4 separate regions of the Homo sapiens genome follow, and all the other regions are reported to be linked to region 1. Evidence: microRNA targets listed by miRTarBase, many of them from high-throughput screens and not tested one by one. Region 1 holds a microRNA gene; each other region holds the end of a gene's coding sequence.
What was found. Region 1 holds the annotated microRNA hsa-miR-4677-5p (UUGUUCUUUGGUCUUUCAGCCA, at 1,782-1,803, opposite strand). A microRNA usually pairs through its seed, bases 2 to 8, with sites in the 3' UTR of a target mRNA and lowers its output. Matches are read on the target gene's strand: a 7mer-m8 pairs with bases 2 to 8, a 7mer-A1 pairs with bases 2 to 7 and ends in A, and an 8mer does both.

Region 2: miRTarBase lists ENTR1 as a target of hsa-miR-4677-5p. Seed matches in the 3' UTR shown: 7mer-A1 at 1,245-1,251.
Region 3: the mRNA of LMBR1 is a reported target of hsa-miR-4677-5p. Seed matches in the 3' UTR shown: 7mer-m8 at 1,274-1,280, 7mer-m8 at 1,777-1,783, 7mer-m8 at 1,988-1,994 and 7mer-A1 at 2,295-2,301.
Region 4: miRTarBase lists CEBPB as a target of hsa-miR-4677-5p. Seed matches in the 3' UTR shown: 7mer-m8 at 1,409-1,415.

The regions. Positions count from the first base shown.
Region 1 is chr1:243,343,735-243,347,990 of GRCh38, reverse strand. MIR4677 (microRNA 4677) reads right to left here and starts at 1,815; the gene lies at 1,736-1,815. It overlaps SDCCAG8 (SHH signaling and ciliogenesis regulator SDCCAG8), which reads right to left. Exons shown (of 18, transcript NM_006642.5): 12 at 3,660-3,776.
Region 2 is chr9:136,399,393-136,403,648 of GRCh38, reverse strand. It overlaps ENTR1 (endosome associated trafficking regulator 1), which reads left to right. Exons shown (of 10, transcript NM_001039707.2): 10 at 762-1,727. The coding sequence ends at 861. SNAPC4 (small nuclear RNA activating complex polypeptide 4) reads left to right here and starts at 3,479. Exons shown (of 24, transcript NM_003086.4): 1 at 3,479-3,515. RefSeq lists silencers at 3,032-3,081, 3,232-3,441, 3,512-3,641, 3,712-3,821 and an enhancer at 2,330-3,266.
Region 3 is chr7:156,680,096-156,684,326 of GRCh38, reverse strand. LMBR1 (limb development membrane protein 1) reads left to right here. Exons shown (of 17, transcript NM_022458.4): 17 at 164-4,231. The coding sequence ends at 249. Among named protein-coding and RNA genes, the nearest start is that of RNF32-AS1, 22 kb to the right of the region's middle.
Region 4 is chr20:50,191,223-50,195,478 of GRCh38, forward strand. CEBPB (CCAAT enhancer binding protein beta) reads left to right here. Exons shown (of 1, transcript NM_005194.4): 1 at 1-1,446. The coding sequence ends at 849. It overlaps CEBPB-AS1 (CEBPB antisense RNA 1), which reads right to left and starts at 847. Exons shown (of 7, transcript NR_125739.1): 1 at 442-847; 2 at 46-200. RefSeq lists silencers at 1-420, 841-950 and an enhancer at 2,315-2,876.

The DNA of each region.
Region 1 (4,256 bases):
GGGCAAGGAGAGAGAGACTGAAGAAGAAAGGAAAATGTTTTATATTTTAGTTCTTTTTAATATCACTTCTTTCCTGCTTTCTGAACAAAAGGGTCCTGTATTTTCACTTTGCACTGGGCCCTAATCAAAGGTTAGCGGCTATAAAGAATCGTCTTCTCAGATTAATTTACCAAAAGGGAAGTTGACAAAAAAACTCTATTTCTGCATCACTCATTTCAGGTCAGCTCATCCTTGTCATGTTAGGGCCTCCTGCAACATGTCCAAATCTTAAATACAAGGCTGTGAAATTAATGCTGAATTTGGGGTTTCGGATGCGAGGAAGCTCCTTTTGGGATATGATTATCAGGAATGCTGCGTGGTAGCCATTTCCTTCACATACTTTGCTGTAGGATTAATTTATACCTCTTTAGAATGACAATGAGGCATTTTATAAAAATAAAGCATAATCAAAACATTATGTACAAAATTTAACAGACAACAACAAAGAAAGATGAAATTTTACTAAGAGTTCTGTTTATTTCCTATTAAAAAGGGTAACACCAGAAAATTGGACATACAAAAACATACTTGTTCTCCTAATTTGAATAAACCAACTGTAAAATCAACATTTTTGAGACAAAGAAATGTGAATATAGGCTGGGTGTTATTTGATATTAAAGAAGTATTGTTAACATTGTTAGGTATGATAATGACATAGTATGTAAAAATATCCTTCATAGATCCACATGGGTATTTATGAGTAAAATAACATAAGGTCTGAGATCCATTTAAAATACTTCTGCAAAAGAAGAAAAAGAGGTAGAGGAAGAAGACAGAAGAAGATGAAGATGAGAAGGTGGAGCAGAAAAAACATGACAAAGAAGATGAAGGTGACGATGAGGACAGAAGTAGAGAGAAAAAAGTGAGATAGATGGAATAGGATTGAGGAGGAGGACTGGCAAAATGATGAGTGATGGAATAGGATTGAGGAAGGGGACTGGCAAAATGATGAGTGATGGAATAGGACTGAGGAAGAGGACGGGCAAAATGATGAGTGTAGGTGATGGAAATGTGAGGACTCATTACAATATTCCCTATACCCTCATACATGTTTTTAAATTCCCCTGATCGAGTGTGTGTGTGTGTATAACCATTGCCTAAAAAAATTTCTCATAAAAATCAAAGAGCATATTTCACATTCTCCTCCATACCAAATGCCTCTTTTTCTGGTGCAAGAAGCATCCTCTGAGGCTGACAGGAATTCTCTAAGCTGAAGAGATACAAAGGAGTTGATGGGAAGGATAATCCGCCCATCGGTTCCTGACACAATATAAAGAAGAAAAGAAGAAAGTGGGTGGAAGCGACTGCCATTGTTACTCTCCTAACCTTTCCTTCTAATTATGCCAGAGCCAAGGCTCAGGTCACAAGGAAAATTATTTTGGTGGTTAACCATTTGCCCTATTTTGTATACATCAAAAAAGCTGTTGTTCTCACACATTCCAATCTCACAGTTTCCCACCCACTTTAAAAATGTATCAAGTGGTCAGATGAACTAAAATATGAATAAAATGACTATATTATGAAGAACACCTTGTTTGCAAACCTACAGATAGCCTGCTTGTGATGCTGAATTGTAAGATACACAACACTTAAACATTTAATCTACTTTATATTATTGTAGGTATTTCAGATAAATGCTCAACATGCCCCGCTTTTAAAAGTTAAATGTAAATTTCTCTCTTGAGTGCAGATGGTGGCCAAGCAAAGTAGTTCTTTGGTCTCACAGACAGAAGGTCAGGTCATGGCTGAAAGACCAAAGAACAATTGCTGCTTTGCTACTCCAAATCATCCATGGAATGAGACACCACGACTTCTTTTCTGAAACTGTCTGTTCAATACAAAACAGTTAAAAAGAGTACCTATAAGATTTCCTCACATTCCGTCTGGGAAAAAAAAATGGTAACAAGCACATCACTTCACAACACATCACAAACATCTTGTAACTGTTCAGAGGTTTTATTCCTAAAGCTGTGACCTCCTAAAAAGGCACATCTCTATCTAAAAACATACCACTAAACGTCATTATGAAAACTACTATTGTTTCACTATTATCAGAAAACGTTTACAAATGAAAACTGCTCCTTGTAAATCCTGCAACTTTAGCCTCCATACCATCACGGATTAATTAAAATGAGATTTAATACTGCAAATACTTCTAATATTGCAAATGCTTCTAAACAAGTTATTCCTTTACAAGTGATATTATACTCCTATTGTCCCTGATCTTTTTTCCTCTAGAAAATTATAATGGAATTTTAAATAACTGAGACTCTTTCCTGATGTATTTTTGCAGTTAGTCCAAAATATTATGCTGTCAGAATGCTGTAGAATAATACGAAAGGCCAAAAGTATGCCAATATATTGATTCCTTTTTAAAAAATTACAATATATCAGGAAAGAAAAGTTATCTGTGATAAACTTAGTAGACCTAGGCCTTCAGTCCCTGACAGAAAGCATTTTCCATTCCACTATCAGGCACGCCCCCAACTGGATGCAATAAAATGTTTCATTATTTGTACATGTTAATAATTAAAAGTCTTCTGAAAATGTAAAACCCATTACAACACCAAATATAGTGGTACAAAAGCAGAATTTTACTTTGGTTGCCAGGATTTTAATTTAGTACTAAGGATTTCAGTTATGACTTGAAAAGCTTTTTGTTCTAGTCTTCATTATCACTTTCATTTTCAATACTTTTCCCAATTGTCTTTGCATCATTTGTTGTAAAGACTTCATTGGCTCAAAAGAGAAAATATGTTGGAAAATATGATGAAAAACCTCGAACTAGAAACATATTTGAAAAAAAACTTATTTGGAGCGACCTACTTCTAAATTCTAAAACAATTATTTTAAAATATTGACACTAAGAACCCAGTCTTACTATTTTAATTGAATAAACAACCTGCTTTCATTGAATACAAAGAATGAAAACCTTCAAGGTCCTGTACTGTAACATAAAAATAGAAAATCAAAAGTCAGCCTATTAGAACTGCCTCTCTAAAAACTTTATCCATGTTGTCAACTAAAATTGGAGTTATCTACTTCATCTCAATAAAGATATAACATAAAACATCTGTTCAAACTGAAATTAAAGTACGCAGCTTTTATCCACTAACATTTCTAATGTCACTGTATTTAGGCTTCATGAACAAACGTATTCATGGTTATCTTAGTTAAAACTGGTTTCACTCTGCCAACAATCAATTTGATTGACATATTTACATATCAACTCATCTCATCTTACGAATTTTAAACTTTTTCATTTAAAATTGGATTCAAGTTGGCATCTTTCAAGAACTTTATGTATGTATATTTTAGGTTCAAACTGTGCATTAGAACATTTCTTTTTACTTTTGTAAGTAATAGATACACATATCCAAATGTATATTTATGACCTGTCAGATTGGAATTTTATATGCATGCTGTTGTATTCTCACCATTCATGTGAAAGGTGATAATTTTAGGCAACTATAAAAGAAATTTTCCTAACAGTGTAAACTGGATCATCCCATTAGTTAGAAACAATACAAATAAATAAATTAGGAATAAAACAACATCAACTTGAGAAAGAATGTTACTCATATCTATAATTGCTGCAATTATGCTGTGTCCTCTCTTACCTGATCTTTAATTTCAAGATCCCTGTTAGTTTTTGCTCTGAACTCTCTGTGCTCCTTTTCTGCCTCATCCTTCTCCATGTTGGTTTTATTCAGCTGATAGCGCATTTCTCCACACACCTGTTAGATTGTAAAAAACTGGATGATTACCTGCTGGAATCTACCAGGCAATGCCTGCAATTAGATCTTTTGGTGCCCCCTAGAGGTCATATAGATAAAATACAACAAAACTTTTCTAAGAATGCCATTTTCTATTAGACTATTCAACGTAGCTTGTTAAGATTCAGAAGCAACACCAGGGATTATTGATTCTAACAACTTGAAATTACAGATAAATAAATGCATAACTAAGGAATTTAAGTAATGTGCCCAAGATTATTTTATATAACAGTTTCAATTGCATATTATCAACCAAAATGCACTATCATCTAACCTTTAAATAGGTAAAGTTAGTAGTTAAAATGTTAAGCTATGTTATTATTCATTCACATTGATACAGTTAAATATTCACTCTATATTACAAAGTTTTCTTTTAAAGACTTCATCAGTTATGCTCTTTAAAAGGAAATGTATAAAGGAATTTTTGTCTGCTGATAGATA
Region 2 (4,256 bases), not on the chromosome of region 1:
TCTGCCACCCATTGGGCTGAGCTCTGCAGGGCGGTGTTGGCCCCCAGAGCACTCCCTGTGAACAAGGGAGCCGTCTCCTGTGAAGTCAGGTGTGGGTCTCCTCCAAGAGGAGCTAGGAGTGGAAAACCTGTGGTTCTCCCCCAGCCCCTCCCTTTCTCCCAGGAACCCTGTCCCTTTCTTCCCCCGGCAAACCCCACCCCTTGCTCCCAGGAACCCTGTCCCTTTCTTCCCCGGCAAACCCCACCCCTTGCTCCCTGGGACCCTGTCCCTTTCTCCCCCGGCAAACCCCACCCCTTGCTCCCTGGAACCCTGTCCCTTTCTCCCCCCGGCAAACCCCACCCCTTGCTCCCTGGGACCCCTTCTGTTTCTCCCCCCAGAATTCTGTCCCTTTCTCCCTGGAACCCCTTACCTTTCTCCCCGCCAGAACCCTTCCCCTGTGGAATCCCTCCCCGCTCTGGAAACCCTCCCCTTCCTTCCCCACCCCCACCCCCGGAATTCCTCCCCTTTCTCCCCCTCAGAACCTCTCCCCTTTTTCTGCCTACCAACCCCTCCCCTTTCTGCCCCCCACCCCCTGTGGAAACCCTCCCCATTCTTCCCCCTGGAAACCCTCGCCTTCCTCCCACTCAGAACCTCTCCCCTTTCCCTACCCCTTGGAACCCCTCCCTTTTTCCCCCTACCAACCCCTCCCCTTTCTCCCCCCAGAACCCTGTTGCTGCTGAGTAGCTGCTGCCACCCATCCTGATATCCATGCTTGTTTTCAGGCAACTGGTTTCCGGAGCTGAGACACTGAATCTTGTTGCCGAAATCCTTAAATCTATAGACAGAATTTCTGAAGTTAAAGACGAGGAGGAAGACTCTTGAGGACCCCTGGGTGTTCTCAGCATGAAGCTCCGTGTATACCCTGAGGTCACCACCGCTCGATCTAAATGTGCAGTTGTGTCCTTAAATATGCAGTCTTCACCCAGAGTAAAGTGTTGATCGCAAGAGTCCAGTGTCGTGCCCTCAGCCAGTTCTTGGCCACCACAATGGGAGCAGCCCTGGCCGAGTTGTCTCTGTGGTTTCTATGCAGCCCTTCTTGGCGAAATTCCTGCGATCTTATAGATTCTAATGAGCTCTTGGAAGACATTGTCATAAAAGCCAGTGATTTTAAGAAAAAGAGTGGTTCTGGAATCAATGTTTTCCAGTCCCATCCCAGAACATCAGTTGTAAGATAAGTACAATTGGTTGTCCTTGATTTCATAAGTAGAACAAACACTAAATGTGCCTCTGAGATGGCCACCCCGGGCAGGGACCTGTGCCTTCCGCCGATGCTCAGGGCTCCCTCTGGCTCCCGGGTCACTCTTGTGGCCCCAGTGGGTGGTCCCTGCAGTCATGGCCTGAGTGCGCAGGGGCCACCGCGTGGCTGCTGCTGTCCTCCTCCGGGACCCACGGGGACCAAGGTCACACGTTCCGTGCTGTGAAGCTGTCCAGATGTGCCTCTTTGGCTGGGGGTTCTGGTGGACGTTTCAAGTGGCATTTTGTACAATGCAGGTTAGAATTCAGGAATTTCAAGTATGTGCCCGGGTCTGTCAGGTCCCAGTTGCCTTTCTGACGGCCCCCCTCAGAGGGACGGCGATGAGCACTAAATGCTTTTTTGACTATTTTCCTATAGATTTTTTTTAAAACTTTTTTTTCCTCCTGTTCCAATTGATAGCTTTCTTATTTAATAAATTCTGTAGTTCACCGCACTGTCTCTTCTCTGCTGACTTAGCCAGTCCTTGGAGAACGCCGTGGGCTTCCACACCTCACTTGCTCTTGCCCTAACTGGTGCCTTGTGCTGGCAGATTCTCTCCAGGTCCTCAGCCCTTGGGGTTAGGGGCAGACTCAGACCACTGCTGCCTGGGCCTGACCACTGGGACCCACACGTGATGGACGTGTGAGTCACGCAGCTGCACGTTTCAGAGCTGGACAGACTGGATTCTAGCATTGGATCATCTTTTCGGATCATGTGGTTGAATTTTTCAAACAAGGCGTCTGAATTGCTAGACCCCTAGCCTTAGCTACAGGTGAAGGCCAGAGCTTTCCAGCAGTCACTGTGGAGCGGTCCTGCTGCGTAGCCCTATGCGCCTCCTGCTCCTGCTGGTTGGTGAAAGCAGGCTCTGGATTCTGTTGGCAGAGCTGACTTGAGACAGGGTGCTGTGGTTGGGAAGTGCCGGAATGAGGTTCTGAGTGTATAGGCAGCTCTGGGAGCCCTGTAGCAGCAGGATGGGGGCATCTGGGGAGGATGCCTCAGGCCACAGGCCTTCCCTGAGGCCCTTTGGGAGAGACAGCATTTGATGGGGTGGGGGTCACAAAGGCCAGATCGCCAGGCGGGTCCCATCCACCAGATGCGTGTGAAGTGGGGTGGTCCCCTGGCCCTCATGCCAGCAGCTCATGGAGCAGGTGGGGCCCAGGGAAGCGCGGTGGGGATGGGCATGTGGGTTTTGCGCACCCCTCTCTTTTGATGTCTGTGTTTGAAGCGTTTGATAGTAAGAAGTTTAAAAATACAATTTGTGGCGCGGTATTTAGTGCCTGCCTTCTGCCTCCAGATTTCAAGCCCGATGCAGGGACTGAAACGAGGCGCTCGAGGAGCCCCCAGCCGCCTGGTTCCATCCCCTCCATCTGTTTCTTGCCAATCCCTAGCTCCCAGTTTGGCCTCACCTGGGCCTAGCCCTTTGCCACCAAAAGCCCACCTCCTAGGTAGGCAGGGCAAACCCTCTTTATAGTTCTCCAGCTGATGCCCCTAGCTCACCCCAGGCTGGAGTGGAGGCCCCCTCAACTGGCTGGGCCCAGGATGTCTTTGCAGCACCGATACTTAGAAGCTCTCAGGAGCCAGGAACTGTAGGCCCCTGCCCAGCTCCCGGCCGAGTTAGCCCTGGCACGTTCCTGAAGGAATGAATGCCCACTTAGGGGAGGGCCCCGGGGCAGCTCTCCAGGCCAGGAGACCCCAGAGGGTGTGCACAGGTGACCAGGGAAGCGAGTTTGTGTGGTGCGGGCCCCCACCCTCTGGCCTCAGTCTCCTGCACGTGCCTGGAGATCGGCCTGGCCTCGGCGATCCTGAGCATGCAGGGCAGGCTGGGGAAAAAGCCTTTCACGTAGACTTTCTCATCCGTTGCTTAACCAAACCCCAACATGTCCGTTAACAGAGGATGAAACAAGCACAGAGAGGTCCAGCGATGGCCGAAGGTCACAGCCAGTAAGGGCCGGTCTTCCGGATCGTGACCAGGTGGCCGGGTGCCTGTCCCTGTCTGTCCCCTGCCTTGAGGTCCCGCGTCCACCCGCGCCCCTCCAGAGCGCGCGGAGGCGGCCCCCAGGGCGGCCGCGCGAGGGCAGCATCGAGCCGTTCGCCTCTCTAGTCCCGGCAGGCCGCAGCGGCCGTCCCGGCGTGCCCCGCGCCTCAGGAGGCGGGACTTCCGGCGCGCGGCGCTCTTGTTCTGCAGCCGCCGGAAGCGTCGAGTCTGCAGTCGCCCGGGCGACGGCGGGGTCCGCGCGGCCAGGTAAGGTGTGCGCCCAGCAGGTGAGGCGCGGGTGGCGTCGGCAGCTTCAGGGCTCTCCCCGTGGAGGGGGCGCTGTCCCGAGGAGCGGATAGCCGAGGCCCGGGACGGGGGCGGGGCAGCGCCCAAAGTCGGGGAAACTGAGGCCCGGCGTGGCCCCCGTCCGGCCGAGCCTGGGCGCGCGGGGATTCTGGCCCTGGGAGCCCCTCGGCTGGGAGCGGGCTGCGGGCTCCGAGGAGGCTCCGGCGGGGCGGCCCCGGCTGCAGGGCGCCCGCGTGCGTCTCGGGGACTGCGCCGGCGATTCCGCGGTGGCCGAGCCTCGGAGGGGGTTTCCCCAGTTCACGCAGCGAGCAGGAGGCGGAACTGGGCCTGGGCCGGGTCTGTCTCCCAAGCCAGTGCCTAAACGCCCATCGTCCTGGCGCATCCTGGGGTTCCCTGGGCCCAGCCGAGTCTGGGTGGCGTCCCCGCAGCTGGGGCTGGAGGGACCGCCTGCTGCGCTCCGTCTTGGTGGGCAGCCCTCATGACCAGCCCTTGGGAGAGGGGTGCGGGGAGAGGGACAGCCCCTGATGTCAGTGGCTCAGCACGTGTGACTTTGACCTCCTTCCTGCTGATCATTGCTCACCTGAGCGACACGGGGAGGGGGAGGCAGCAGCCTCGTGTGAGGCTTCCAGAGGAAAGCGTCTCCGCCGGCCCGGAGGCGCTGAACCAGCCTGCGGTCGCTGCCAGCTCTGCCTCTGGCCGGCT
Region 3 (4,231 bases), not on the chromosome of region 1:
AGTAGGGAGAAGAAATCATTCATTCCTCAAGGGGATCTGGCCAGCACCTCACAGCTTTCCAAATAACACTTAGCTTTGTAAATCTCCTCTTCTCCCTACCCTAACCCTTTCCCAGCCACTCAGCAATATATCATTTCTCACCATTTTCTTAATTTTTTTGCAGGGCTTCATAAACTTCACTTACCAAATACTTCAAGGGATTCAGAAACAGCCAAGCCTTCTGTAAATGGGCATCAGAAAGCACTGTGAGACGCACAGACGGCGTCTTCTGCCACCAAGAGACCCGAGAACTCCAGATTCACGACATTCCTGTCCCATGTAGAAGCATTTCCATTCAACCGTGGCCCCTCTTCAGAACCTAGACCTATCAGTGCCATTTTTTTTTCATAATCTACGAAGAACTTGGCTATGGCTGATCTTTTTTAAATTTAACTTTCTGATGGACCCTGTAGTTTCCAGTTAAGTGCAGATTCCTTACAGACATATAGAACAGCGCATTCTTCTGTAGACATTTGCTCATGTTGGTAAATACAATCACCCATATGAAAAAATTGTTTTCACCTGATATGAAAATGTTAGAAAAGGCAAACTCCGGGACTTCTAAAGATTTACTTAAATCCCATTATGTACTTTATTCAGAATGTAGAAGCTGACTTGAAAGGCATCCTTGGTACTAAGTGAAGCTTATTCAGAAAATGCATTTTTCAAATGCAATGGCAACTGCTTGTAGATATCATTTTTGCAGTGTATGTTGGAGCTGTAATGGTTGCAATTATGTTTCTTATTTCCTTAAAAGCAAAAAGCGTAGTTTCTGATTTATGTTATAGAATGATACTGATTAGACTTTGAGCCAAGGGGAAAATACTAAATTCTTTTAAACCTGGAGCCTTAGAGAGCCACAGGAATATCTTCTGTTGTACAGTCTAATAAGCTGTGGTAGGAAGTATCATGTAATCACAGTTTAATGACAGTTTATGTATATATATAATTCAGTATTCCCTCTGATAACATAGTTGCCAGTGTTTAATACACTTGTAACTTGGATTTTTACCTTATAGGCTATATGTATACTCAGTTTTTTAAAGCATTTTTTTCAGAGATCACTTAATTCCCCATGCTTCTGCAATGCATATAAAAACTATAAATGCCGAGTGGTAGAAACTCCTCTTTCTTCATAGTCCTCAGGCTTTGGTTACATTTGCATATGCCATTTGAAGCCTCCAGCTTTTACCAGTTTAACATCCAAAGTTCACAGCATCAGCATTCATGGTGTAAGAACAGTTTTGCAGTATAACACGATCTGATAATCATTCAGTTATTAAATTGTAAATAATTATTGGGATGGTTTCTTGGCTTTAAGTCCACTGAATAAAAACTATGAAATTGCACTCTGTGTCAACCATCCACTAGGATAGAATACCGAAATCTGTGCATGCAAAAATAGGAGATGGGCCCATTTGCACACAATTCGTAGTTATGCAGTCTGCTATATAAATATGTTCACATGCACTGTGTGTATGAAAATAGATGGTCTGTGTTCAGACAAAAGTAAAACATTTTTTTCAAATTGTTACATTTAAAGGTTTTCTGGGAGAAATTTATGAAACGCAGGCTGTGTCTATTTGACATCAGAAATTTCCACTTTAAACCAAAATAATAAGAAACTTTAATCTGTATATTTACAACCTTTGTTGAGTACACTTCCCCCTTATTTATACGTCTGCATTTCCTTCCGAGCTTCACATCTTTCTAAAATGCAGCTTGGTTTTAAAATAAAAGAACATTCATTTTGTGATTCTAAACAAGCTTCAGTAAATACCACCAGTATAGTACTGGTGAATTTCTCAGCATAAAATCGACATACCTAAAAAGTTAATAAAATTCAGCTCTTTTCCAATTTCATTGTTATGCCTATTGAAGTATTAATTGCCAGGTTTGATTTTTAGTGAAGCTTGGAGTCCATACTTTGAGCAGACCAAGTGAAGGGAAGAACAGAAAGAAACTCAGGAGTAGAGTAATATCACTTCTCACTTACACCACTTTCAGGCACATCCAAAGAGTTCCTAGATACTTGGAAAATGTCTGAAAATTTTTAAGTAAAATACTAAACTTTTCAGTGTTTAGCTCAACTTTTTGTTCATTTGGAAGTTTCTCTCCATCCGAGGACTTAAGCCAGTTTTGGATTTGTAAGCCCTGAGTACAATACACTTCCTGGAGGCATCCTCACTGCTGTTGAAGCAAAGGATATGCATGGGGTGGAAGGACGGCTTCGAACCTGGGACTCATATGCCTTGAGAACAAATAGATTGTTACAGCCTTGGGCTGCTGCGTAATCACGGTTCCTCGAGGCTCTTCCTGAGCACATGCCCAAGCATCTGCCTCTGGAGAGACTGACTCCAAATGCAGGTGCTTCCATTGGAGCTAGGTCGGAGGCTGCTTTATATGACGAACTCCAGAAATGGATGCCAGAATACGGAGGCCAAACGTTCTGAGTCCTGGTAAGGACAGTCGCTCTGGGGGTCCTCATTTTACTGCAGTTCCTGCACGCCAGTGAAAGAGAGGAGATAGACCCTGGAAGGCAGAGCTGCAGATGCTCATCATCAGGTCAATTCTGGAGCTACAGTTTTGTTTCTGACTGGATAGGGATGCACCAGTGACTGTCACATCAAGCAGTCCTTTTATTCTCTCTCCTTTAGTATCGATTTTAAAGGGCATTAGGCACTATGGTTCCAGAGTTTCTTGGGGAAAACTTGCAGATTCTTATTAATTGGTTCTGCAATACTTAAATAAATTATTTTACAATTATAAGTTTTCAGATTATAACATTTGTATTAATTTTTACTGATTTTCCAAGATACTTCTTAGATTTACTATTTACGTAGCTTTATGTACATTCTCTGTAAAAATAGACCTCTAAATATGAGGCTTTACATGAAATTTGTACACACATACACACTAATGTTAGCTCCTTAAATTGCTGCACTAAGGTGCTGGTTAGTAGAGATGGACGGAGCCTCTCGCGTTTTGCTCTCAGATGTGTTAAAGGCGCACGTGTACCTGCTCTCAGCGGCAGTGCGGCCTCCCCATCTGCTGGGTGCCCATGGCCCTCCCTGCAGCCTCAGTGATGACCTCGTCTGCCAGGGACACAGGTTTTCATCATTTACAGGCTCTTATGTGCTAGTTTTGTTGGTAGCACGTTATTTAATGCATAAAGGCAGAATTCTTACAAGTTTTTTTTTTTAATGTGAACATAGATGCAGCACCGACTTTTTAAACTTGAAAAAACTGGTATAATGTTAACTTTTAAAAATAACATTTGGACACACTAGTAATTGATTTTTGTTTACAGATTGTTTTGTTTACAAATTGTTAGTCTTTGTTTCTATGAGATACTTTTAGTGTGACTTTTTAAATGTCTTAGAAATTAAAAGTTGTACAAAAAGTGATTTCATATTTGGTTTATAAGCATTTATATGTGGGGTTTATTTGTTCTTTTGTTTTTTCCATCTTAAATATTATCATGGCTAAAACTTAAGGGTATTTATAGTTTAATTCCATTTCAGTTTTATAGAGGGCAGTAATTATTCTGATGAATGTTGAATTAAGAAATGGATATTTTCTTTCTCTGTTGTGCAGTTATTGGTAGATCAATTTCTTATAACCCACAATGTAGCATCAATAATTGATAGCATGTATTTTATTTAATTACTTGAATTATTTAGACTTGATTTCTCTAATTTTTTCCATAAAAGGACTGAACAGCACCTACTTGTGGTCTGGACAGCTTAACCCAGAGTTCCTGGAAGAATAAATGCTGTTAGCATCTGGTTAATTTACTGGCAGACAGAAGCCTACTTACAGTGGCTTTCAACTTTTTGACCACAGTAAGAAATAACCCATTACACACACACACACACACACACTCTCTCTCTCTCTCTCTCTCTCTCTCTGTCTCTCAGATACGTATAAGCAAAAATTTAACAAGACAGTACTTGTTTTTCCTAAGTGTGCATGCTGGCATCTTCTGTTTTATTATTTTTAAAAATACTAGACACAGACACTAAGTTACTTTGTGGCCTCCTAATAGATGGCAGACTTCAGTTTGAAAAGCATCCCTTTGGAATGTGGTTTAAAAGAAGAAATAATACAAAGACCTTTTTGGAGTTTTTTTTTTTTTTGGTTTTTGAATATTGTTTAGGTAAAAATTATTGCTGCAAACACAACTGAAGCA
Region 4 (4,256 bases), not on the chromosome of region 1:
GGCAGCATCGGCGACCACGAGCGCGCCATCGACTTCAGCCCGTACCTGGAGCCGCTGGGCGCGCCGCAGGCCCCGGCGCCCGCCACGGCCACGGACACCTTCGAGGCGGCTCCGCCCGCGCCCGCCCCCGCGCCCGCCTCCTCCGGGCAGCACCACGACTTCCTCTCCGACCTCTTCTCCGACGACTACGGGGGCAAGAACTGCAAGAAGCCGGCCGAGTACGGCTACGTGAGCCTGGGGCGCCTGGGGGCCGCCAAGGGCGCGCTGCACCCCGGCTGCTTCGCGCCCCTGCACCCACCGCCCCCGCCGCCGCCGCCGCCCGCCGAGCTCAAGGCGGAGCCGGGCTTCGAGCCCGCGGACTGCAAGCGGAAGGAGGAGGCCGGGGCGCCGGGCGGCGGCGCAGGCATGGCGGCGGGCTTCCCGTACGCGCTGCGCGCTTACCTCGGCTACCAGGCGGTGCCGAGCGGCAGCAGCGGGAGCCTCTCCACGTCCTCCTCGTCCAGCCCGCCCGGCACGCCGAGCCCCGCTGACGCCAAGGCGCCCCCGACCGCCTGCTACGCGGGGGCCGCGCCGGCGCCCTCGCAGGTCAAGAGCAAGGCCAAGAAGACCGTGGACAAGCACAGCGACGAGTACAAGATCCGGCGCGAGCGCAACAACATCGCCGTGCGCAAGAGCCGCGACAAGGCCAAGATGCGCAACCTGGAGACGCAGCACAAGGTCCTGGAGCTCACGGCCGAGAACGAGCGGCTGCAGAAGAAGGTGGAGCAGCTGTCGCGCGAGCTCAGCACCCTGCGGAACTTGTTCAAGCAGCTGCCCGAGCCCCTGCTCGCCTCCTCCGGCCACTGCTAGCGCGGCCCCCGCGCGCGTCCCCCTGCCGGCCGGGGCTGAGACTCCGGGGAGCGCCCGCGCCCGCGCCCTCGCCCCCGCCCCCGGCGGCGCCGGCAAAACTTTGGCACTGGGGCACTTGGCAGCGCGGGGAGCCCGTCGGTAATTTTAATATTTTATTATATATATATATCTATATTTTTGTCCAAACCAACCGCACATGCAGATGGGGCTCCCGCCCGTGGTGTTATTTAAAGAAGAAACGTCTATGTGTACAGATGAATGATAAACTCTCTGCTTCTCCCTCTGCCCCTCTCCAGGCGCCGGCGGGCGGGCCGGTTTCGAAGTTGATGCAATCGGTTTAAACATGGCTGAACGCGTGTGTACACGGGACTGACGCAACCCACGTGTAACTGTCAGCCGGGCCCTGAGTAATCGCTTAAAGATGTTCCTACGGGCTTGTTGCTGTTGATGTTTTGTTTTGTTTTGTTTTTTGGTCTTTTTTTGTATTATAAAAAATAATCTATTTCTATGAGAAAAGAGGCGTCTGTATATTTTGGGAATCTTTTCCGTTTCAAGCATTAAGAACACTTTTAATAAACTTTTTTTTGAGAATGGTTACAAAGCCTTTTGGGGGCAGTAATTGGCTTTTGTTTTTTATTTTTTTACTTTATTTTGGATTTGTAGGATTTTGTTTTTGCGTTTCTGGTGTGTAGGGGGTTGTGTGTGGGGGGCTGCTGTTATTTTTGGAGGTTTTGGTGGTTGGGTGGGGGTGTTGCAGCTGGTTTTTCTGCCTCCTCTGCTACTCCCCCTCCCACACACACAGGGTCTGCTTGAGATGGGGTTCCAGCCCCGGGGGAAAGGGGAGAAGAGTAATGGGTCAGGCATTCAGGCTGACTCAGAGCCCCTAGGCGCCGGGACGGGTGGCTGGGAACCCTGCTTGAGAAGAGATTCCGGAGCCTCTGGCTGGTCCCGAGTGTCAGGCTTGGGTTTGGAAGGGCTGGGAGGTCTGTGACCCCTGCCCTGTGTTTGGGGACTAGGTAGGCAGGCCTGTGACTGTAGGAGGAGGGGGTTCAGGTCTTGGTCCTGCTGAGCCCGAGTCAGGGCAGATGCTTTTGGTCAGTGTAGTGGGGTGGGTTGTTTAAAACACAGTTTGTGTATACATGTGTATTTTAAAGAGGGGAGCCTGGGTGTGTGGGCGAGTCTGTGTTTGTGTGTCCCTGGCCAGCAGGAGGGGAGAGGCCAGGCCAGGTGGAGAGAGGTGGGGGAGGGGTTCCCACACTTTGATTACCTTTCCTGAGGATGGGAGGCTCATCACTTGCTCTCTTTGCCCAGACTTGGACACTGAGCCCACCTCACCTGCCTGCTCAAGGTGGCTGAGCCCAGGCACAAACGTGGGGCTGCTAGCCCTGATTCCCTGGGACAGGCTCCTCTTCCCTGCCCACTGATCCCTTTGCCCCTTCCGGCTTCTCACCGCACCCCCTACTCCCATCCAGCCCTGGATGGCATTCCTGAGAGTTGAGGATGTAGATGGATGTGAGTGGATACATGTACAGCGTCCCACAGTGCCTGGCACGCAAGAAGTGTTATATAAGCGCTTGCTCTTGTTATTATTTTTTGCTGGGAAGCTGCTGGCATTTGGCACCCCAGTCTCCAGTGCAGCGCCAGTGTGGCCAGTACTTGCCAGGGGCCGGCATCTGGTAAACACTGGACCTGCCCCATCCCATTTAGACCTCACAATAACCTTTGGGAAGGTGGGGATTGTTATGACGCCTGTTTTTAGAGGTGGGGAGCAGCTTTGGGCTGTCCGATCCCTATGGGCAAGACACTGGTTGGGGGTTGCCCTGCCCTGAGGAATTCAGGGGCAGCAGGCATCGTAGCCTGGTTTGCCAAGGACCTGGGGCGGTCTGGGATCTCAGGAGCAGTTGCTGATACCGTGGTTCGCGAATGGGAAATGCTTTGCCCCTCCTTTTCCTTTTGGGGGCCTGGTTGTGCTTTCCCTGTGGGAGCCTGGGATGTGGGGAACAGACAGCGACACTCATCCCCCACCGCCACAAAGCGGAGGATTCCTATAAGCTCCACCTCCCTAATGCCAGTGTCTCCTGATGGTGGCTCGAGGGCTATGCAGATTGCTGGACACAGATAACCTCACTTCAACCTGGGACCTGCAGCGTGGCCCTGACCACGTCCCCTCCCAGCCCTGGGCAACTGGACAACTGGCCGGGCATGCCTTCAAAGCCTCGAAGTCAGTTCAGTCCCAAGCCCCACTGGTCTCGATGGTTTCTGTCAGTAGCAGCGACAGCAATGTGGGCTTGACCTCAAGGATTTACTTGCTGAAGGCAGAGGCTGAGGGGCTGGACCTAGGGAAGGAGGGAGGTGGAGAGGGTCGAAATTGAGGAACAAATCTCAAATCCCTGCTCCCTCCTTTGTCACCAAGAGTTGGCTGGTGGCCACTGCTCACCCAAATGAGGTGAGAGGGAAGCAGCCTGGCCAGACGGTGCCCCTCTTCCGCCCCCGTCTGCCCCACAGCTTCGCTTCTGTTTCCCCAGTGCTGTCCTGGAACCAGCGTTGAGTCAGTTCTTCACACACTCACATCTTGCTCTCATCCACAGTACCCCACAGAAGGTGCTAGACCCATTTCTAAAAGCACACATTGAGGTCCACAGAAGTGAGGTTTGTGCTCAAGGTGGGCTAGGTGGAGCAGGTTACAAAACCATCCGACTCCCAAGTCTATGGGGAAAGTTTGGGGCTGGGAGCCTGGTTTGTAATCCCAGTTCCTGTTTAAAATCCCAGGCTCTTCTTGGAGGGCTCCTTGCCTGACCTCAAGTTCAGGCACTCCAAGCCCCAGAACTGCAAACATCAGTTTCACAGTTTGGAAGCAACAGAAAGTGAATTTGAACCTGAACCCCTTGGGCTGCCTCTAAGGAGGGCTGGGAGAAGCAGTTCACAGGTTGAGGGCTTTGACGGTGGCTTGGTATGGGAGCACTGTGGACGGAGCTGTGCCCAAAGGACTTGGGGAGATGTCATAGTTAGGGCAACACCAACCCCACAGTTCACCAAGCTGCAAGGGTGAAGGGCTCGCAGGGAGGAACCAGTCCATTCCGACATCCAGAAACAGGAGGGGGTGGGATGGGGTGAGGCGAGCCCAGGAGGCCAGGGACGAGCCTTGAGGAATCATGATAATAGCAGGTGTGAGACAAGGGCTTAGATGTGCAAAGCACCACTCCAAGCCCTTGGCACAGAGGGAGGTGCTGGGTCCTTAGATATGTGGGAGAAAGCCGGTCATGTTAACCACAGACCCATTTAGTGTGTTTGACCACTGAGGCTAGCTGGGAGGTGGGAGCCTGGAACCCCAACTAATGTTTGCTCAGGACAAGAGAGTTCACAAAACAAGACACATTCACACCTCATAATCTTATGCAATTGTCCCA